Linked DNA regions of Homo sapiens: regions 1 and 3 are each linked to region 2. The links come from fine-mapping of genetic effects on gene expression. A gene starts in region 2. Each other region holds a variant in brackets. All regions are shown on one strand. Distances are between the middles of the regions.

Region 1 (7,528 bases), 130 kb after region 2:
CTCCATCTAAAAAAAAAAAAAAAAAAAAGTTAATGGATTTACCCTAAGTCACAAGCCTAGGATGTAGCTGAGCTAGGTCACCTGTTCCCCAGCCCATGCCTGCTGCCCGGCTAAAGGAGGGGAAGGTGAGAAGGATGGCACAGTGGAAAAGATAAGCTCTTGGGAGCAGCCACGTCTTGCTGTCAGAGGGTAAATGGCTATAAACCAAAAAGTATTTGACACAAGTCTCCATCACCTTAGGTTTCTTTTGCTAAGGTCAAGGGCCATGGCCTGACAAAGCCTAAGGAGGTCCTGAGAACATGTGCCCAAGGTGGCTGGGTCACAGCTTGGTTTTTGTTTGTTTGTTTCTTTTTGTTTTTGTTTTTTGAGATGGAGTCTCACTCTGTCGCCCAGGCTGGAGTGCAGTGGCACAATCTCGGCTCACTGCAAGTTCCACCTGCTGGGTTCACGCCATTCTCCTGCCTCAGCCTCCCAAGTAGCTGGGACTACAGGCGGAGTCTCGCTCTGTTGCCCAGGCTGGAGTGCAGTGGTGCGATCTTAGCTCACTGCAAGCTCCGCCTCCAGGGTTCATGCCATTCTCCTGCCTCAGCCTCCCAAGTAGCTGGGACTACAGGCGGAGTCTCGCTCTGTTGCCCAGGCTGGAGTGCAGTGGTGCGATCTTAGCTCACTGCAAGCTCCGCCTCCAGGGTTCATGCCATTCTCCTGCCTCAGCCTCCTGAGTAGCTGGGACTACAGGCGCCTGCCACCACGCCTGGCTAATTTTTTGTATTTTTAGTAGAGACGGGGTTTCACCGTGTTAGCCAGGATGGTCTCAATCTCCTGAACTGATGATCCACCTGCCTCGGCCTCCCAAAGTGCAGGGATTACAGGCATGAGCCACCACTCCCAGCCTAATGTATATGTTTATCATTCAACATTTGTTGAGTAGTAAAAATATGAATCAAATAATGATAATCCTAATGATAACATTATTATTATTATTTTTATTTTTGAGATGGAGTCTCACTGTGTCGCCCAGGCTGGACTGCAGTGGTGTGATTTCAGCTCACTGCAAGCTCCACCTCCTGGGTTCATGCCATTCTCCTGCCTCAGCCTCCTGAGTAGCTGGGACTACAGGTGCCCACCACCATGCTCAGCTAATTTTTTATATTTTTAGTAGAGATGGGGTTTCACCATGTTAGCCAGGATAGTGTCAATCTCCTGACCTCATGATCCACCCACCTCGGCCTCCCAAAGTGCTGGGACTACAGGTGTCAGCCACAGTGCCCAGCCAAGCCCAGGTTCTTTTCATGTAGATGAAGCCTTCAGGTAGCAAACTTCAGAGAGAATAGATGGCAAATGTCTCTTGTCTGACCTTAAAAAGTGTCAGCCTCTCCAGAAAAGACCTAGTAAGAGAAGGAGATTCTCTACAGAATGCAAATTTTCCCACACAAGAGAAAGCTTTGCAGGCCCATTTCAAAATATGTCAACAAAATATATTTTGGGGTAAAATACTTTGATTTCCTTAAGGGCCTACTGTTTCATGATGCTGTCATGAAAAAAAACTAGTTCCAACCATCATGGGCATAAGGAGACCCACAATGGGTAGCTCCTCTCTGTAGGCAGGTGGTCCTGTGGAGTGTTCAGCTCTCAGCAGAGAGGAGGCCCTGGGAGGGTGGCTCCTCTCTGCAGGCAGTTCATCTCATTGTCTCTGCAGCTCTCAGTAGATTGGAGCCCCTGGAGAGGGTAGCTCCACTCTCTACTGGTCGTCCTGACATCTGCCGAACTCCTAGCAGAGAGGAAGCCCTGGAGTGGGTTGCTCCTCTCTGAAGCTGGTAGTCCCAACATCTCTGCAGGCCTGTGAAGCTCTCAGCAGAAAGGGTAGCTCTTCTCTGCAGCTGGTCATCCCATAGTCTGCTTAGCTCTGGCTGAACCTGGGGTTTTTATGGGCCTCAGAGGGGAAAAAGTGTATGCTGATTGGTACTTGGGTGGGCCTGGAAAAGGCACCACAAGTTCCCAGTCCAGTCCATGAGACTGGCAGCCTTGGTTCCCAGCCTTCAGACCCTCCCTGGCCTGAAGGTGGGGCCTCACTGGGGACCGGCCCCCTTCCATCCAGGAATCTGTCTGCCTCCTGCTGCCTTCATGACACCTGAGCTTGGCCCCAACATTCCTCCAAGATTGGAGTGGGCAACAACAGCAGGGAGAAGCCAGGCAATGGGAGCAGGCACTGCTGAGCCTGCAAGGGGAAGGGATGCTTCCTGGCCCTCAAGAGTGCAGGGGTGCCTGAGTCTGCAGCCATGGTTTAGGCAGCTACAGCTGTGCCTGGGAGGGCAGGGATCCTGCTTGCTCCTGGCCTCCCAAGAGCACAGGGAGGCTCAGACCTGCAGCCACAAGTTGGGCAGCTACAGCCCTGCCCCGGAGGGCAGGGCTCCTGCCTGCTCTGTGGAGTGGGAGGCCCAGGTCTGCAACCCAATGGTTTGGGCAGCTGCAGTGGCACCTGGGGAGCTCCCACCCCAACTTGGAAGGGCTTCATGGAGTGTGCAACCCCAGCCACGTCTCCCTGCTGCAGCTGGGAGCTACAGTTGAACAGTTGGCTACATTTCATTGTCCAAAACACAGTGATCTGGAGCAGCCACTGCCATCAATGGTATATCAGAATCATGTTGAAATACGGTGTTCTATTGCTGTTACTGGAAGGAGGGCCTTGGGTGTAAGTTGTCTAGGTTCTTGGTGTTTTGAACAAAAAACTGGACAAAATGCACTAAGTAACAAAGGAATGAAACACAGGATCGAAGTACCAAAATCAGGGATTTATAAAAGAGAGAAGGTACGCCACAGGGTGGGACTGGGCCCGAGCAGCTCAAGGGCCCAGTTACAAAGTTTTCTGGGTTTCAAGCACTCCTTTTGAGGTTCCTATCAGTTACCCCTTATATAGTTGAAGGATTTGGTCTGTGGCTAAGTAAACACTGAGGTGAATGGCACCCTATGCAGATGAAGGGATGGTCCCTGCTTGGCCTGTGGCCACTCCAAGCCACTCTCCCTTTTTGTCTAAGCCATGGTGGAAGGGGGAGGGTTGTAGAAAGAGTAACCTTTGACCCTTTGCTACTAAGGCATGGGGAGCTGGGTTTTTCCTTTCGGTTTAGCTTCAGGAAGTTGGCATTAACTGGCCTTAGGGCCCCTGCCTCCAGACCCAGGTGTTTCCCTTTTGATCCAGCTTTGGGAAGTCAGCACAAATTGGCCTCAGATTCCCTGCTTCCCCCCAGACCTTGGTGTTTTTCCTTGATTCAGCATGAATTGGCCTTAAGTTCCTTGCCTCCAGACTGTACTATCCTGCCTCATTGCTACAGAGTCTGTTTTGTCAGTCTTGAGACCCCAGTTTTCTTGTTAATACTGGTCTATTGTGTCTAAACTCTAAAGGGAGGAGGGTAAAATGAGGCAAGTCTGACCCCTTATGCCCATGATGGTTGGAACTAGTTTTTTAGGGGTTTTTTGGAATTCCCCTTCTCCAAGGGGAGGGGTTCATTCAATGGAGGCACAGAGGGCTTAGAGTTTTACTTTTGGTTTACACAAGCTTAAAGAGAAAAAACTTGCCTTCAATACTAAAACTAAAAGATGGGACTGGAAATTTCAAAGATAAAGACCCCAAACAGAGAAAACAGCACTTCCACATCCACATTTGGGAACCATTAGCACAGAG[G/A]TCCCAGGTGACTGCTCTTTCCTGCCCAGGAAGCCAGGAGAGATGCAGGCCCCCGAAGCACACTGGCTGGCCTAAAACAAGGGCAAGGCCTTTCCTTGTTGAAGATGTCCCGGCCAAACTCAGACTCGTTCTTGTTCCCGCATGACGCAGGAGAATAGGGTCTGGAGGGAGGGAACCTAAGGCCGATTCATGCTGACTTCCTAGAACTGAATCAAAAGGAAAACCTCACCTCTTCACACCCAAGTAACAAAAGGATCAGAGGCTACTCCCTTTGCACTACATAGCAGATAAAAAATAAAAAAGTACCTCTGATTGGTCCCCTCCTGCAACCAATCACAATGGTTGTGGACCATTCCTTCATTTACGTAGGGTATAACAAAGTAACCAATGGGAAACCTCTGGAAGGTACTCAAACCCTAGAAGATTTTGCAACTGGTGCTCTTGAGCCACTTCCTCAAGCCTGCTGTCACTCTGTGGAGTGTACTTTGGTTTCAATAAATCTGTGCTTTTGTTGCTTCATTCCTTCACTGCTTTGTGTGTTTTGTTCAATTCTTTGTTGAAAACACCAAGAACCTGATGGCTTGTGGTCAAGACCCTCCACCAGTAACATGTACACACATATGCACATATACACATGACCACATACGTGGCAGGAAGGGGCACAGAACCTGGAGTCAAGTCACCTCTGGCTATTGCCAGCTATTTGCTGGGACAGGTCAGTTGTCCTCTCTGAGTCTCGGTCTCCTGGGCTGTAGCCAGGGAGAAATAATATCTACTGTACAGGACTATGGGGACAGCCAAAAGCCCTTTATAAACCTAAGAAAGAGAAGTCGTTAGGAACTATTCATGGGCACTCACAGCAAGGCAACCCCATCTTGTAGGATGGCATCTGTCCCCAGGGCAGGGAGCAGGAGACCTGTTTCCAGGGGTTTCCAGGGTAACTTGGAGCAAATCACTTACCTTTCTTGGACTCAGTCCCTGGAAGAAGAGGCCATCCCAGACCCCTTCCTCCCAGGAACTCATTCATTCTGTCAGCAAACATAGACTGGGGGCCTGCCAAAGGTGGCGGGTACAACCCATCACTGCCCATGGGCTATGCACCGCCTTGCTGTAGGAACAGGCCTATAACTGCATCACAACCCGAAATCTGGACAAAGGGCAGAGGAAGCTGAGACTCCTTCCCCTGGGGTGGGGGCTTGAGGGGCTCAGGAGGACTCTCCAGAAGAGGTGACATTTCAACAGGGCCTTGAAAGCCAAATAGGTATTTTTCAGAGGGAGAGTGGGGAGGGGCAAAGGCATTCCAGACGAGGGTAACATCCTATGGTGAGGCAGGCCTGCAGGTGGGAAGGAGGGGAGGATGGGCAGAGTTTGTGCTGTGGAGCACAGTAGCCCAGTCATGAGAGAGGTGCAGGACGGAGCACACAGGGTGGGCTGGGCAGGCTGGGCAGGGTGCTGATTGGCGGCTGCAGGGCTGCTCCCCAGGCATGGGTAATCGTCCCACGCATCTGGAGGCAGGCTCTGTATGCATCTGGTTCTTTCCATGGCCCTGAAAACAGTCTTTTTTTCCCTTGATGAAATCCTGCAGTCTGCTCCCATGTACCAGTACCTGGATAGGAAACTGTTCAAGGAAGCCTACCAGATTGCTTGCTTGGGTGTCACAGACACTGATTGGCGTGCACTGGCCATGGAAGCGCTAGGTTTAGATTTTGAAACAGCAAAGAAGGTAAGCATCTAGCCAGCAGGAGCTGGAGTTTGGTCCTTGTGGGGTCCCTTAAGAAGGCAGATGGGGACGCAGGTGGCACGGAGAGGCCATAGACTGCAGCAGTCTCTGGAGTTAGGCTGACCTGGGCTTGTATCTTAGCCACTTCCTCACTGTGGGCCTGGGTAGGTGACACCCTTTCTAAGATTGCTTCTCTATAGACGTAGGGTGATGACAGGCCCCATCCTCACAAAGCTGTGAGGATCAAATGGGAGGATGCCTGTAAAGCCTGACCCAGGAGCAGCATGTCAGATTCTGGCTGTCACTCTTATTAGCTGTTCTCTATGGGAAGCACCTGACTAGTAGCCTGGCACATCACAGGCACTCCGTAAATGGCGGCTTTTATTATCGGTGTAGTCACTGGCCATGATGCTGCACACAATGCTGCTTTTCTTAGCATCTGCCAACTAAGGTGGGAGAGATGGTCAAGGTCTCTGATTCTGACAGCAATGTGGGCACTTCCCACGTACCTTCATGGCGGGATTCATGGACTTGATTCGTTGTGTCCTTTCCTGGCCTAGTCTATGAAAGCTAGAGAGATGGCTGAAAACATCTGACCCCTCTCTGCACATAAGGAAAGGCCCAGGTATGTTCCTGAGCTGTGTTTCCATCTAGAACCTCAGATGGAGGAAGGAATGGCTTCCAACCTCCACTCCCCTACCCCTTCCCTCTTTATCTCCCCACAGTCAATTAAGGAGCTGCTCATTTTGTCCATATTCCTGGGCTGACATTGAAGGAGTGGCAAAGAGGGACGTGATGCCCGCCTTGGGTTAGATCAAGACTTGTAGGCATGAAGAGAGGAGACTGGACCAGACCAGGACTCAGAAGCCGGCTGAGAGCCAGCTGTGTCACGTAAGGGGCTCTGGGACCTCAGGCCAGCGGCTTCCCTCAGAGCCCCGGTCCTCCCAGTTCTGAAATGGGGGTAGTGAGAATGCCCACTGCAGTCACAAGGCTTAACTGAGATGTTGTAAAGGGGAATTTAAAGCAGGGATGGTTGTGCAGATGCTAGCCATTACTTGAACATTGTTACACAATGATCAAGATTATATTTTTAGATGTCCCCAGTGTAGGAAAGTGGAGATGGAGGAAGCTGTAAGATTCAGAGGAGGGAGGAGGCATCCCCATGGAGGGAGCTTCCCTCTCCTGCCCCACCCAGAAATGCCAGCAGGGAGGAAGATGACAAATCCCCAGAATAGGTGTTGTTTTGGGCACAGAATGAAATTAAGAACCTTCCCTCTAGATTGTCACCTCCTTACACCCAGGAACCAAACACGTACCTCATCTTAATAACACTGCACACTGCCTAGCACAGTGCCTTAGACAGGTTGGTGCTCAACAAATATTTGAATGGATAACAACTAAGTTTATTCGTTCATTTATTTAACTCCCCAGCCTGTATCACCAAAACACTCCCTGAGAATTGAAAGGGTGTATTAAAGCCACAAGATTTAAAAAATAACACTGTTCATTGATTTATTTAAATTAAAAAATAATTGTATATGGTAAATATCTATTAAGTACAACATGGGACAGGCACGGTGCCTCATGCCTGTAATCCCAGTTCTTTGGGAGGCCGAGACAGGCAGATCAGTTGAGGCCAGGAGTTTAAGACCAGCCTGGCCAAAGTAAAACCCTGACTCTACTAAAAAAATACAAAACTTAGCTGGGTGTGGTGGCGCATGCCTGTAGTCCCAGCTACTTGGGAGGCTGGGGCAGAATTGCTTGAACCAGGGAGACAGAGGCTACAGTGAGCCGAGATCATGCCACTGCATTCCAGCCTTGGTGACACAGCAAGACTCTGTCAAAAACACAAAAAAATCAGTACAATATGATGTTTTGAAAAAGCTGGATGATTTTGACAATAGGGTAGGAGTTGCTATTTCATCTAAATCCTGTATCCCCCCCCTTTCTTTCCCTCTGTGACAGGCACTCAGGCTCACCAGTTTGCACAGGGTGGTCCCCAGTGATGGTATGCCATCCCCACTAGATGGCAGAGAAGAGCTGCTGAGCTCTGGCCAGGCCATGAGTAGAGCTGCAGGTGCCTCCCTGTTCCCAGGCTTCCCTCTACTGAGCTCATTCAGGGGCCTTCTGAC
Region 2 (7,528 bases):
ACTTTGGGAGGCCGAGGCGGGAGGATCACTTGAGGTCAGGAGTTCAAGACCAGCCTGGCCAACATGGTGAAACCCCGTCTCCACCAAAAATACAAAAATTAGCTGAGTCTGGTGGCACACGCCTGTAGTCCCAGCTACTAGGGAGGCTGAGGCATGAGAATCGCTTGAACCTGGGAGGCAGAGGTTGCAGTGAGCTGAGATTGCACCACTGCACTCCAGCCTGGGTGACAGAGCTACACTCTGTCTAAAAAAAAAAAAAAAAAGAAGAAGGGGTCTAGACTTAAATAACTCATACAACTCTAAATAAAAAGATAAAATAATTTTAAAACGAGCAAGGGATATGAACAGCTATTTTTTCAAAGAAGATGTACAAATGACCAATAAGCACATGAAAAGATGCTCAACATCAGTAGCCATCAGGAAAGTGCAAATTGAAACCTCTTCACACCCACTAGCATGGCTATAATCAAAAAGACAGTAACAAGTGTTGACAAGGATATGAAGAAATTGAAACCCCCATACACTGCTGGTGGGAATGTAAAATGGTGCAGCTGCTTTGGAAAAGCAGTTAGACAGTTCTCAAAAAGTTAAACATAGTTACCATATGACCTAGTAATACCACTCTTAGGTATAGACCCAAGAGAAGTTAAAACATAGGGTTGCACAAAAGCTTGTACATTAATGTTCACAGCATTCACAGCTTTGTTCACAAGAGCTAGACTGGAAACAAGCCAAATGTCCATCAACTGATTAACAAACAAAATATAGTAAATCCATAAAATGGAATATTATCCAGCTACAAAAGGAATGAAGTACTGATTCATGCTATAACATGTCTTGAAAACATGCTAAATGAAAGAAGCAAAACACACAAAAGACTACATAGCATATGATTCTGTTTATATGAAATATCCAGAACATGCAAATCTATAGACAGAAAGTAGATTAGTGGTTGCCAGGGGCTGGGCAGATGGGCAAATGGAAAGTGACTGCTAATGAATAGCTTTCTTTTTGGGATGATGAAAATGTTCTCCAATTAGTGCGGACAGGTACATAAACTTTTTTTAATATACTAAAACCCACTGAATTGTACACCTATTTATATATGCATGTGTGTGTGTGTGTGTGTGTGTGTGTATATATATATATATGTATATACACTTTTTTTTTTTGAGACAGAGTCTCGCCCGTCACCCAGGCTGGAGTGCAATGGCACGATCTTGGCTCAGGGCAACCTCCACCTCCTGAGCAATTCTCCTGCCTCAGCCTCCCGAGTAGCTGGGATTACAGGCATCTGCCACCATGCCCAGTGAATTTTTATATTTTTAGTAGAGACGGGGTTTCACCATGTTGGTCAGGTTGGTCTCAAACTCTTGACCTCAGGTGATTCACCCTCCTCAGCCTCCCAAGTGCTGGAGGCGTGAGCCACCTCGCCTGGCCACCCCTATGTATTTTTTGAGACAGGGTCTTGCTCTGTTGCCCACGCTGGAAGTACAGAGGCATGATCATGGCTCACTGCAGCCTTGACCTCCCAGGCTTAAGCAATCCTCCCATCTCAGACTCCTGGAGTAGCTGAGACAAGATAAAAATCAGTTTAGTCCTCAGATGTACCATAACTTCCTTAATCATCCCTTTATTGATAGACATTTAGGGTGTTTACAATTATTTTGCTGCAAACTGCTGCAGCAGGCAACTTCATTTTCTTTTTTCTTTTTTTTGAGACAGTTTCGCTTTTGTTGCCCAGACTCCAGGCTGGAGTGCAACGGCGTGATCTCAGCTCACTGCAGCCTCCGCCTCCCAGGTTCAAACGATTCTCCTGCCTCAGCCTCCCGAGTAGCTGGGATTACAGGTATGCACCACCACGCCAGGCTAATTTTTTTTTTTTTTGTATTTAGTAGAGATGGGGTTTCACCATGTTGGTCAGGCTGCTCTCAAACTCCTGACCTCAGGTGATCCACCTGCCTCAGCCTTCCAAAGTGCTGGGATTACAGGCTTGAGACACTGCGCCCGGCCTCATTTTCTTCTTTTGAACAATTTCCTCCTGATTAGGGGTGGGGTTACCGATCAGACATTTTGAACATCTTTCTGACTCTTGACAATTTTGCATGTCACAAGATCTGTTGTCCTTGGCCCTAGCCTCTGCAAAGCCAGACCCTAAGGGCTGGCCCCTCTGACATCTCCCTTCCTCCAGCTTTGCGGTCACCCTTTTCACCTGGGGCCTCTGCCTCAGCCTCCTGCCTCTCCTCTCCACAGCCCACTCCTTCTCCTGCCCACAGGCCTGCGGGCTTCCCCTCCCCAGGCAAGCTGGGGCCGTGTCGCAGCGCTTGGCCATCACGACTTTGCCATTGCCAATGCAATCTGGCTCACTGGCATGCACTGTGCTTACCTTAGCCTCAGGGTGTCCTGCATAGGTCCCCAGGAAGATAAACCCTGGGTGATGTGTCATTTTCCCCTTTCCGTTCCTTCCCACGCCCTTCCCCCCACCTCCCCGCGTAGGCAGCGCATCTAGTTGGCACTCCATAAATATCCAAAGTATTTACAAAATAACGTAGAAGTTCTATGCTGTTTAGTTAGATCTCTTAAGGTTGATAATGTACAAGGCAATTTGCATCAGGAGCAGACGAGATAGGGCCCGGCAGATATAAATTAAAAATGCAATTGCACGCATTCATTCAACGAGAACTCACTGAGCAACTACTATGTGCCAACATTATCCACTGCAGTGAATAAAAGACAAACAAACAAGCAAATAACAAAAAAAAAAACAAAAGAGCAAGAAAGTGGCCGGGTGCAGTGGCTCACCGCTGTAATCCCAGCACTTTGGAAGGTCGAGAAAGGAGGATCGCTTGAGGCCACGAGTTCAAGACCAGACTGGGCAACATCATAGTGAGACCTCGTCTCTACAAAAATTAAAAAATTAGTCGGGGGTGGTGCGCCCAGCTCTACTCGGGAGGCTGAGGTGGGAGGATCGCTTGAGCCCAGGAACTGTAGGCTGCAGTGAGCCAGGATCGCACAACTGCACCACAGCCTGGGCAGCAGAACGAGAAATAAATAAACAAATAAAAGCCAGAAAGTAAAAATAAAGTGTTAGATGGCGATTCGAGCTGAGGAGGAAATCAGGCAGGGGAAAGAATCTGAAAGCGAGGAGTGAGTGGCTGGCAAGGCTCCTTCGGAAGGTGGCAATAACAGTCATAGACCGGTCACATCAATTGGGTGTTTACTGCGGGCCAGTGTGTGCCACCAACCTCACACCCGAAAGCCACAAAGACTCACGCCACAACGCAACGAGGCAGGGGCTCCTCCTCCTCCCTTGGTATACGGAAAGAAGCGTAGGGAGCAGAGTTGGGATGCTAGTCAGTACCCCCCTGCACCTAGCCCTTGCCCCTCCGTCTGGCTTTCCCCACTCCCGCTCCGGCGGAGCTAAGGTTAACATTAGACGAGGCTGTGGCTACCGGAAAGAGCGCAGGCGCAGAGCGCGGAATGCGCCTGCGCAGAGCGCTGGGCGACGTGGCCAGTCGGGGCCCGGAAGTGGTCCCTGTAGAACCACTGTGGCACCGCTACTCCGTGCCGCGCCCGTCGAGCATTGCGTTGCTGCATTGCGCCCCACCGACTCCACTATGTTGAAGAAATTCGACAAGAAGGATGAGGAGTCAGGTGAGGGGGCCAGGCCTGGGTCTGAGGGAGGCCGGACCCCCACCCGCCGAGCTTTCCTTCTGGTTCTCTGTCCTGACCCGGAGGCTGAGGCCCAGTGAGGGGCAGGGGCTTGTGCCAGGGTCCACAGCTAGTCAGTGGCAGGCCTCGGAGAGCCCGAGCATGCGCGGCTGTCTCACTCTTGTAAGCTCGGACTGCAATTTTCTGGGTGACCTTGGGCGCGACAAACACCCCCCCCCCCAGGCCTCAATTTACCCATCTGTCAAAGGAGGGGACCATGCCGAATGTTCTCTTGTTACTTTCTTCGTCCAACCTCTTGGGATTCGCTGGGGCTACGTTGGTGCTGGCCAAACTGGGGTGTAACCTGCGGAGCCAGCGTCCTGTGACTGGGAACTCTGACCCCATCATTCATTTATTCAGCAAAGTATATTGAGCAGTTACTGTATGCCAGGTACTGTACGGTGTCCTGGATACTGCAACAGAGCAAGTGGGACACTCAGTGCCTGAGCTAGGAATATTAGAATGGTTGCACCCACGATGGAGGAGGCAGACATCAACCAGATAATCACACGTGTAATTATTTGCAAATGTGTCATCTGCTATGAAGGAACTAGTTACAACGAGATGGTGGTCCCTGGCACATAGGGACTTAGTTAATTACAAGTTATATAAATGAACACAAGACATGGCACCATGAGAAGCACAGGACTGTACCAGGGCTGCTGGGAGATTGTGAGTGGTTTGGGGTAGAGTGGAGCCCACCTGCTTGCAGGAGACTAGTAGGATCCCTAGACAGATTGTAGAGGCTTGATTGCCATTCCTGAGGAGTTTGAACTTTACTAGATTTCCTAGGAAGGGACATCTTCCCTTTACCTATGTCTGGGAGAGTTTTGAAGTTCAGAGTCACAACCTACCTTCTCCATTGTCCTTGACCGTAGGTGGAGGCTCCAACCCATTCCAGCACCTTGAGAAGAGTGCGGTACTCCAGGAGGCAAGTGACATTTGCTCCCCTCTAGCTTCCATCATAAATATTCACCACCAATGCAACTGAAATACCAACACATTCAAAGTGTTGTTTTAAAGAGCAACACGGGAGAAAACTTGTGCCTGGAAGTTTTCTGGAAGACAGGAAAACTTTGTTTCTGGAGAGAGTTAGTTATGCTTACTTCTTTTTTTTTTTTTTTTTTTTTTTTTTTCTGAGACAGAGTCTTGCTCTGTCGCTCAGGCTGGAGTGCAGTGGCGTGATCTCGGCTCACTGCAAGCTCCGCCTTCCAGGTTCACGCCATTCTCCTGCCTCAGCCTCCCAAGTAGCTGGGACTACAGACGCCCGCCACCACACCCGGCTAATTTTTTGTATTTTTAGTAGAGACGGGGTTTCACCGCGTTAGCCAGGACGGTCTTGATCTCCTGACCTCGTGATCCACCCGCCTCGGCCTCCCAAAGTGCTGGGATTACAGGCTTGAGCCACCGCGCCTGGCCTCTCTATTTAAACATTTAAAAAATTTCTCTATTTAAAGTTAATTCCAAAGCTAAGGAAACTGGTTTAAAACTATCACCTAAGCTAGACTGTGGCCATTATGCAGGTAGAGATTTTGCATGACTTGTTTATTTTTATTATATATATTTTTTATATATATATATATATGTATTTTTTTTTAGAAGGCGTCTCACTCTGTTGCTCAGGCTGGAGTGCAGTGGCACGATCTCGGCTCAACTGCAACCTCTGCCTCCTGGGTTCAAGCAATTTTTCTGTCTCAGCCTCCCAAGTAGCCGGGACTACAGGCGCACGCCACTATGCCTGGCTGATTTTTATATTTTTAGTAGAGATGAGGTTTCACGATGTTGGCCAGGCAGGAGAATGGTGTGAATCCTGACCTCTTGATCCTCCCGCCTCGGCCTCCCAAAGTGCTGGGATTATAAGCGTGAGCCACCGCGCCCGGCCACTTCTCTTTTTTTTTTTGAGATGGAGACTTGCTGGTGTCAGCCTGGGGTGGAGTGCAATGGCATGATCTTGGCTTGCTGCAACCTCCGCCTCCTGGGTTCCAGCAATTCTCCTGCCTCGGCCTCCCGAGTAGCTGAGATTACAGGTGCCCACCACCATGCCTGGCTAAGTTTTGTATTTTTAGTACAGACGGGGTTTCACCATGTTGGCCAGGCTGGTCTCGAACTGACCTCAGGTGATCCACCCGCCTCGGCCTCCCAAAGTGCTAGGATTACAGGTGTGAGCTACTGCGTCCAGCCGCTTCTTTCTTTATTGTTGTCGTTCATTGTTTCTGTTTCCAGTTAGCAGATGGTTGCTAAGTATCTGCTAGTCAATAGGTTAGCACATCCCTAACTAATATTTACACGAGAGTCTAAGAATAATTAGTAGTTGATTAAAGAAAAACAAACCCTTTCCTTATGAAAATAAGCTTGTTGCATACCCAGAAAGCCCTGTTTAGACAAGTCAGTTTACCCTGAGACTTCTCAGACATTGAATATACTTGAAGGGAAATGAACTAGGCTAGAAGGTAACATCTTTGGTCATTTCTTCTTAGGCCCGTGTATTTAATGAAACTCCCATCAACCCTCGGAAATGTGCCCACATCCTCACCAAGATTCTTTATCTCATAAACCAGGTAACAGGGTGAAGCTTGCGGGTAGGGAGAATGGTGCTGGGGGATTGGAGGGGAGTGGACAAATCATGATCACTCTTAGGCTATTGGACAGCCTCTGTGTGGCTGTAGACAACAGCTCAGCTCTGGGTCCCCTCAGCATCCAAGTCTCATATGTTGCCCTTGAGCCTCTTTAGGGTCTGGGGATCTGGTGTGGGCTGATCCTGAAAGAACTGCTGTCTGACCCTCTGTCCCAAGCTGAGACTTCTTTCTTGATTAACACAGGGGGAGCACCTGGGGACCACGGAAGCGACCGAGGCCTTCTTTGCCATGACCAAGCTCTTTCAGTCCAATGATGTAAGTGCCTCAACCCAGCTTTCCTTGAGAGGTGGCAGCTGTAACAAGGTGGTGGGAGGGCCAAAGAGAGCTGGCCCCACCAGTCAGTGTGGGCTGCCTTTGTGGAGACAGGAGGTATCTTCTCCCAACTCTGGCCCTTGGTGAGCCCGGGCTGATAGGGCTTTTCCCACCTATCTCCCAGCCCACACTCCGTCGGATGTGCTACTTGACCATCAAGGAGATGTCTTGCATTGCAGAGGATGTCATCATTGTCACCAGCAGGCAAGTCATGGGGTTGTGGGTGGCTCTTCTGATGGGTTCCATTGACAGACCATTTTTTTCTTGTGTGTACCAGACAGTGAGACTTGGTTGCATATTGCCAGCTGCCCACCCCGTGGCAGCTTCCCTGTTACCACTGCCCACCCCATGGCAGCCTCCAGGTGTGCTGTTTCTATTTTAATTCTCTGACCTTGACTTGGACACAAATGCTTCCTTTTCTTGATTTCTCTTAGTCAACCAAACCAGCTTAGAACTTTCCCAAAGACTTTCTTGAGTATAAAGAGAGAACACAAGAAAAATAAACAAGAGAGTACAAGCGGTATACTGCTTACTAAGTGACTGGTGTCTGCTTTAAGCTAAGCAATTCAGGGACAGATGTGACTAAAGTGTAATCACTGCCCTTAAGAACTGGGGCTCAGTTCTCTTATTTCTTCCTGCCACAGTTTAAGGTTGTGGGGGTCATACATTGATTTGTAGGTTCAGTTAGAAAATATTGTCTGTCAGTCCCTGTGTGTAGCTCTGGGGATATAGCAACAAAAAAGATAGACATGGCCTCTGTAGCCCCAGAATTTACAGAGAAATAACCAGGCATCAGGCCATTAAGGTAGGGTGTAATATAGTTTATCACGGAAGTATTATGGGCTATGAGAGCAGACCAGAAGAGCATC
Region 3 (7,528 bases), 28 kb after region 2:
TCTGTTTGAGCCCATCCAGAGATGAAGAAAAAAAAAAAAGAGAGAGAGAGCTGGGTCTAAGTTGTATTTATATACACTGTAAACATCCACAGGAGTAGGGCCTCAGTGAAAATCTGATGGGAGAATGAATGGGGAACCTTCATGTAGACTCAGTGGGAGTATTATGTGTCAAGTTCAGGGAAGACACAGCTGAAATGGAGATAGAGATTCAGGATCTGTCAAATCCAGAGGACACAGCTGGGGTAGGAGGTTTCTGCTAGTTTCTGCTGAACTAGAAACAGCTGCTGGTCCTGAAGAGCTCATCATCCCCTAGGAGGGACAGGCATAGGAAGCAGACCTCTGAGAATGCTATGTAATTCCCTGCATGCCAGGTCCTGGAAGCACTGACACTAGGCAGGCTTAGAAGAGATGTGATCTCACAGCAGGCGGCTCTAGGCTGAATTAGTAGATTGGTACTTGGGATTAGGGCGTTTTCTGTTGAAGGGATACCATTTGCCTTTGGGCACCTCAAGGATAGGTACCTGGTCAAGTTGCTCTATGTCCCCAGAGTCTAGCACAGTCCTCAGTGCCGAGCAAGCACCTGTGGAAAGAGTTGCAGGAAGGGATGTGTGGATGAGTTCAGAGCAGAGGCCCGTAGGTGTGTAGATGGGTGCCTGATTTCTACCTCCATCTCTCCAGCTGGAAGATCTGGAAGTTACTGTAGCTGATCACATTCAAAAGGTCATGAAACTGAACTTCGAAGCAGCCTGGGATGAGGTAGGGGATGAATTTGAGAAGGAGGAAACGTTCACCTTGTCTACCATCAAGACACTTGAAGGTAAAATCCTGGGAATGCCATCTCTGGCCTAATTACTGTTCAAGATCTTTGGCTACTATTGAAGTGCTCATCCCTTTTCTCTCCAAGGATCCAGGGCCATGTCTGGAGCACATATGTCAAATGCCACTTCATTAAAAGCCCTTCAGAACATGGGGGAGTGGTGGTGGCACAAAGGGCAGATAAGATGGCTTAACAATATTGGGATTTCTCATTACAGAGGCTGTGGGTAATATTGTGAAGTTCTTGGGAATGCACCCTTGTGAGAGGTCAGACAAAGTGCCGGATAACAAGAACACCCACACGTTGCTCCTGGCTGGTAAGTGGCATTTCTAGATGGGGAGGGCCTGGATAGCTTACAGCCTGGATGCCACTGGATCCTGGGCTAAGGACTCCACTGTAAATATGGGGAGTCAAAATTCACAGCATTTAAAATTCACAAAGTATAAAATAATCTGCAGCGAAATGTTTCCTCCCTACCTTGGCTGCCAGCCATTCAGATTCCCTTCCGAGAAGCGACCAGTGTTACTATTACAAACAATACTTGTATAACCTTGCGGTTATTTTATGGCTATAAAAGCTAATAGGAACGCATTTCCTTTTTTTAACTCAAATGTTTATGTACAAATGGTATATATATTGTCCTCCGATTTGCTTTTCACTTTACATTGCATCTTAGAGATCTTCCCCGTCAATATGTAGAGCTTCCTCATTCTTTTTCTTTTAATTGTGGTAAAATATACATAAAATTCACCATTTCGACCATTTTCAAGTGTATGGTTCAGCGGCATTAAGTACATTCACACTATTGTAAAACTATGACCACCATCCATCTCCAGAACTTTTTTCATCCCAAACTGAATCCTCATTTTTTTTATAGTTGCTTAGTATTCCATTGTGTGGATGCACCACATATTCTATGGAACAGCCACTACTGATGAACATTTAGTTTGATTTCAATCTCTTGCTATTACAGATGTTACAGTAAATAATCGTGTACACACACACACACACACACACACACAGTTTACTTTGCATGTGTACACTGAGAATATCTGTAGGATAAATTTTCCAAGGCATCACCAGTTCAAAGTGATTTGTGTTTCTCATCTTGATAAATAACTCCAAGTTGCCTTCCATAGAATTGTATACCTTTCTTCCTACACTGTGGACAACATAATATGTTACCACACTTTATGATCTTTTCCAGTCTGTGTGGACAATGATATCTTAGTGTAGTTTTTGTATTTTCAATGAAGTTAAGTATCTTCTTAAATGTTGAGGCATTTGTATTTCCTTTTCTGATCATTGTCTTCATATCCTTTGTCTTATTTTCTACAGGGTTGGCTGAGTGTACCCACACTCATTCTCCTTCCCAGATTATTTACTAGCAAACTCCAGAAATAGCATTTTATATGTAAATCCTGTATCTGTATGTTTCTCTAAGAGAGAATGACCCCTTCCCTTTTTTAAAGGACAATACAATTATCATACCTAAAACAGTTAACAAAAGGAAATGGGATGATTTTTTTTGGCTGAGTGTTTATAAACAGGGTTGAAAGGAGGCTCTGCTTCAGTACCCTGCCTACAGCTGACAGTTTGTAGCCACATTGAAACAACCTAGTCCCCTGGGTCTTGCAGACACCTGCCCTGTGGTTTTCTCGTGGTGGGGCTGTCCCCTTCATTTGTGCTCTCAGATTCAGTCAACGTGCAAGAGCCTCTGTGACATGAGATATAAGCCTTTTATGTCCATCAGTTCATTTGAACTTAGCAGAAGCCTGAAATATGGTATTATCATCCCTGCCACTTTGTAGTTGAGGATACTGAAGTCCTGAGAGACAGTGACTTTCTTTTTTTTTTTTTTTTTTGAGACGGAGTCTAGCTCTGTCACCCAGGCTGGCATGCAGTGGCACAATCTCTGCTCGCTGCAACCTCCGCCTCCCGGGTTCAAGCGATTCTCCTGCTTCAGCCTCCCGAGTAGCTGGGATTACAGGCGTCCACCACCATGCCCAGCTAATTTTCGTATTTTTAGTAGAGATGGGGTTTCACTGTGTTGGCCAGGCTGGTCTCGAATTCCTGACCTCATGATCTGCCCACCTCAGCCTCCCAAAGTGCTGGAATTACAAGCGTGAGCCACCGCGCCTGGCTGAGAGACAGTGACTTTCACAGTGAAATCCCTCACTCAGGGATTTCAGCCCAGCTCTCCTGCCCGTTTCACTACACCAGAGCTGCCTTCATGGGTTGCTGCAAATGCCATCCTTAGCCTGCCCTGTACAGTCCCTTCTGCTGTATATATCTGTACTTCTCTCTTCCCTTCTAGGTGTGTTCCGGGGTGGTCATGACATCCTGGTGCGCTCCCGGCTGCTGCTTTTGGACACAGTGACAATGCAGGTGACAGCCAGAAGTTTGGAGGAGCTGCCAGTAGACATCATCTTGGCATCTGTGGGATAAGAGGCCAGCCTGCATAGGACCTCATACCCTTCCCCAACACTACCTGGAAGTTGTGCCTTCCTCATGAAACTGGCAGAAACCCCTTCCCAAGCTTCTGTATTGAAAAACAATTAGGAATCATTGCAGATTTTTTTTTATTCTGCTCCCACCTCCCACCCGGGACTACTTGCTGGTGA[C/CT]TTTTTTTTTTTTTTTTTTTAAATAGGGGATGATTTTAGCTTGTCCTAAATCTTGCTGTCCACCCTTCCAGGAAAGGGACATTGTAAATGAATAAAACATTCTCAACTCCTCTTGAATCTATCCCCCAAGAAACCATCTTATCCCTGTAATAAATCAGCATGTATTTATTGAATGATTGCTACTTCTGCAGACTCATGCTTCAGGGCTCCACCTTCCCCTTCAAGGCCTCCCCTAAAGAGGCAGAACACCTGCCCTGTCCCCCTTGCACCCACAGCCCTTTGGCTGTTGTAGTCCTGTGAGGCAGGACCCTCTCCCCGTCATCGCTGTCCCAGCACCAAGCCCAGGGGTGGGAGCGGTAGAGGGTGGTTGAGTGAATCAGCTAACAGGCAGAGTTCACACTCCCTCCCGTTCGTGCTTCTTCACAACGCATCCTCCTTTGATAGTCGATAAATGGAGGCTCCAAAGGGCTTGGGTCCTGTGTCTGATCGTTCCAGCATCTGGTCTTACATGGAGTGTGCCCTGGGGTTTCTGCTCCCTGTTCAGTTCAGCGAATCAGCATAGGCGAACAGCCCTCTAGAGCATTCTCTGTTGGTTGCAGATGAAGAATCTCCGGTTTAGGTCCCAAGGGGAGCAGGCTTTTAAACTCAAGCCAGGCTATTTTACCAACTTTGAGGCCAAAGTACACCCGAAAGGGCTGTTTTAAAAATCTGGGCCTCACCCTTAGAGATTCAGCTGAGGGGCTGGGGCAGGAAAGGCTTATTCTAGTGCCCACCAATGTTTGAGGGCGAAGTGCGCGATTCCTGGAAGTTCTTCTGACTTTCATTTCTTCAGTGTTCCTCCATTTTTGCCTCGCACTGTGAGGCAGCTGGCAGGACTGTGAAGTAAGGAGTGGAGTTTCCTGGTTTCCCGCCTTCCATGACCCTGTGCCCTAGACTCAGCGCGGCGGGAACCTTCCCTGCCAGCCCTGAAACACGCTGGGGGCGGGGAGGAAGGTTAACCCCGCCAGGGAACGGCCAATATGGAGGAAAGTGGAGTCCCGAGAAGCTTGGGATCGATATGTCTCCCAAGGCAGTCACTGTCTCCTGGGGAAACGGGAGAAAATTCATCCCAAACCGGAGGGGAGAAGACGCCGCCTCCGGGGCCCGAGGGCACCGCGGGAACCAAGGGCCCTTGGGGGCGGGGCCTGGCGCCGGGAGCGCGGGCTGAGGCGGGGCTGACGTGAGGGGCGGTGACGCGGGTGGCCAAAGCGGAGCGGAGCGGGGGTGAGGAGAGTCGAGGGAGGTGACGCGCGCTGCCGGGGCGAGGTGAGGGGAGGGGAGGCGACGCGGGCGGTCGGGGTATGGCGAGGGGAGGGGAGGGGAAAGGAAGCGACGCGAGCTGACAGAGGGGAGCAGAGGCCCGAGCGGACGCGAGGCGACGCGGAGAGGGCGGCCTGGGCCGAAGTGAGGCGACGCGGGGCGGCGGAGTCTGAGGGCCGGAGCGGAGCGGAGGCGACGCGGGGAGGGGCGAGGGATCGCGGCCGGTGGCTGGGGGCCACCTGCTCCCCGAGCACCGGCCCCCGCTCCGGGGAGCAGAGTCCGGAGCGGGATCCGCGGCCCACAGGTTCGCAGGTCGGGCCCGGGGACGCTGCGGACTAGCGGGCGGGAGGCGGGGATTCTGCACCCCGGCCCCGGGCCGTCCAGTGGCCGCCCTCGAGGTGACCGGTTGCTGGCCGGCGTGGGTCGCTGACCCCAGCGGGGACTGGGGGGAAGGACGGGGAGTTGGGGGCACCAAGTCACCCGGAGGAGGCGACCCCAGCTAGCTGCGCTTGCCCTGCTTCGCTGGACTGTGAAGCCCCCTCCGCTGCGGCTCTTCCTGCGCTCAGGCAGGCATTTGCAGAGCTCCTCTCGGGACTTGCCTCAGTGCCCTGCACGGAGCTGGGCAGTGGGCTCAGGGAGCGAAGCAAACGGGCACATCCTTGTCTTTGTGGGACTTTTTGGGGAAGACTTTAGACGGTGGTCACGGAGGGGCACGGCCCTGTGGGAACGGAAAGAGAAGGCGGGGACTCAAGGAATAAGACCTAATATTTGAGATACGTAAGCCTTTTCCTTACGTTTTGTAATTTAAAGGTTGCGAGGGGCGGTGTTGAAGAATGTGTGGGCGAACATCCTGTCACTTACCTAGAGATGTTCTCACGAGAGCTTGCGCCTACCAGGATCGGCGGGGCCAGCAGCGGCTCCCGGAGTGGAGGGACCCTGATAAGTACTGCCCCTCTTACAACAAGAGTCCTCAATCCAACAGCCCAGTGCTTCTGTCTCGACTGCACTTTGAGAAGGTAACCAGCATTGCACTATGCTAGCCCCTCGCCCAGCCTCGTGATGGTCATCTCCTATTTGGTTTGGTGTGTGCTCAGCCTCTTGGGATGACATTAAAAACCAGCCTTTACTGATATATTCTGACTTCCAGTTGAGAACCTCTCTTGGCCTCATGAAAGAAGTTTTATCAGTGGCTTCTAACACTGATAAAGACGTATTTTTCAGGCTCAATTTAAATGCCTTTGCTATACATGGCATACTAGCCTTAATATATGCCAAATTTATATGAGCTTTGTGTTTTAAAATAGCAGCTTTCACTGATCATCAGGGTCATTGGAGTATCTTAAAAATATAATAAAAAAATTTAAGGCCAGGTGCCATGGCTCATGCCTGTAACCCCAGCACTTTGGGAAGCCGAGGTGGGAGGATCACTTGAGCCTAGGAGTTGGAGACCAGCCTGGGCAACATAGGGAGACCCCATCTCTACAAAAAATAAAAAAATGAGGTGGGAAGATCACTTGAGCTGGGGAGGTCGAGGCTTCATGAGCCATGGTTGTACCACTGCACTCCCACCTGGGTGACAGATCAAGACCCTGCCTAAAGAAAAAATTTAAAAAAATAAAAAATTTAAGAATATTTCTATGCCCTTTACCAGGCCAGCTTAATCAGACTTCTCTAGGCCTAGGACAGGCTTAAGATCAGTTAATTTAAAACACTTCTGATGTTTCTTGAGCATTGAAAAGTTTTATTCTTTCTGCTTGTGTTTTCAATCTTTTTGTGTTTGTCTTTTACTAAGGCTAGAAACACGTATTTGGTTTGGTTATCTGAAGTTTAATTGCATTCATTGTGTTTATAGTATTTATCCCTGTAGTGTTGGAATTACCAGTCACTTACATTCATATTTTAGTTTTTTGCCTTATCTCCTGAAAGTGTGTGTGTCTTTGTATGTGTGTGTAATAAAAATGCTTCGTTCTAGAAAGTAATAGTTTCTCCATGTCTTAAATATTTTAAATGACCTTGACATGTTTTTAAAAATCGTGATTGTTGGCTGGGCACGGTGGCCCACGCCTGTAATCCTAGCACTTTGGGAGGTGGAGGCGGGCGGATCACGAGGTCAAGAGATCGAGACCATCCTGGCCAACATGGTGAAACCCTATCTCTACTAAAAATACAAAAATTAGCTGAGTATGGTGGCACGCACCTGTAGTCCCAGTTACTTGGGAGGCTGAGGCAGGAGAATCACTTGAACCTGGGAGGTGGAGGTTGCAGTGAGCTGAGATTGCACCACTGCACTCCAGCCTGGCGGCAGAGCGAGACTCCATCTCAAAAAAAAAAAATTGTGATTGTTTCCTTCCTGAATTTTGACTGTATTTGATTCATAATGCTGAAATCACTTTATAAAGTTGATTATACCTCTGGTACATACTCTTTAAACTTTTGTGATAATATGATAGTCAAAAAGGACTCATTTCTGCATTATAGGGAATCACATCATTTTGAAATAAAGATAACAGGCTGGGCATGGTGGCTCACACCTGTAATCCTAGCACTTTGGGAGGCCAAGACGGCTGGACCACCTGAGGTCAGGAGTTCGAGACCAGCCTGGCCAACATGGTGAAACCCCGTCTCTACTGCAAATACAAAAATTAGCTGGGTGTGATGGCGGGCGCCTGTAATCTCAGCTACTTGGGAGGCTGAGGCAGGAGAATCGCTTGAACCCGGGAGGCGAAGGTTGGGGTGAGCCAAGATTGTGCCACTGTACTCTGGCCTGGGCAACAGAGTGAGACTCCAT

Alleles and levels. Alleles are on the strand shown, and positions count from the first base shown. SD is a standard deviation of normalised expression in the study named. Not every link is listed here.
For the expression in monocytes after interferon gamma of the gene that starts at base 3,514 in region 2, C is the high allele of the variant in region 3 and CT is the other (small effect, 0.32 SD a copy in Fairfax 2014).

Evidence for each region.
Region 1: its variant is fine-mapped to the expression of COPG1 in atrial appendage (GTEx, PIP 0.99).
Region 3: its variant is fine-mapped to the expression of COPG1 in monocytes after interferon gamma (Fairfax 2014, PIP 0.95).

The regions. Positions count from the first base shown.
Region 1 is chr3:129,376,040-129,383,567 of GRCh38, forward strand. It overlaps the pseudogene RPL32P3. Among named protein-coding and RNA genes, the nearest start is that of SNORA7B, 18 kb to the right of the region's middle. The variant G/A (reference allele first, on the strand shown) is at 3,677.
Region 2 is chr3:129,246,093-129,253,620 of GRCh38, forward strand. It overlaps COPG1 (coat protein complex I subunit gamma 1), which reads left to right and starts at 3,514. Exons shown (of 24, transcript NM_016128.4): 1 at 3,514-3,654; 2 at 4,590-4,642; 3 at 6,189-6,269; 4 at 6,531-6,602; 5 at 6,784-6,863. The coding sequence starts at 3,618. RefSeq lists a cis regulatory region at 1-70.
Region 3 is chr3:129,274,160-129,281,687 of GRCh38, forward strand. COPG1 (coat protein complex I subunit gamma 1) reads left to right here. Exons shown (of 24, transcript NM_016128.4): 22 at 679-817; 23 at 1,035-1,133; 24 at 3,135-3,614. The coding sequence ends at 3,265. HMCES (5-hydroxymethylcytosine binding, ES cell specific) reads left to right here and starts at 4,711. Exons shown (of 7, transcript NM_020187.3): 1 at 4,711-4,746; 2 at 5,551-5,756. The coding sequence starts at 5,574. RefSeq lists silencers at 4,566-4,915, 4,926-5,315 and an enhancer at 5,736-5,865. The variant C/CT (reference allele first, on the strand shown) is at 3,442.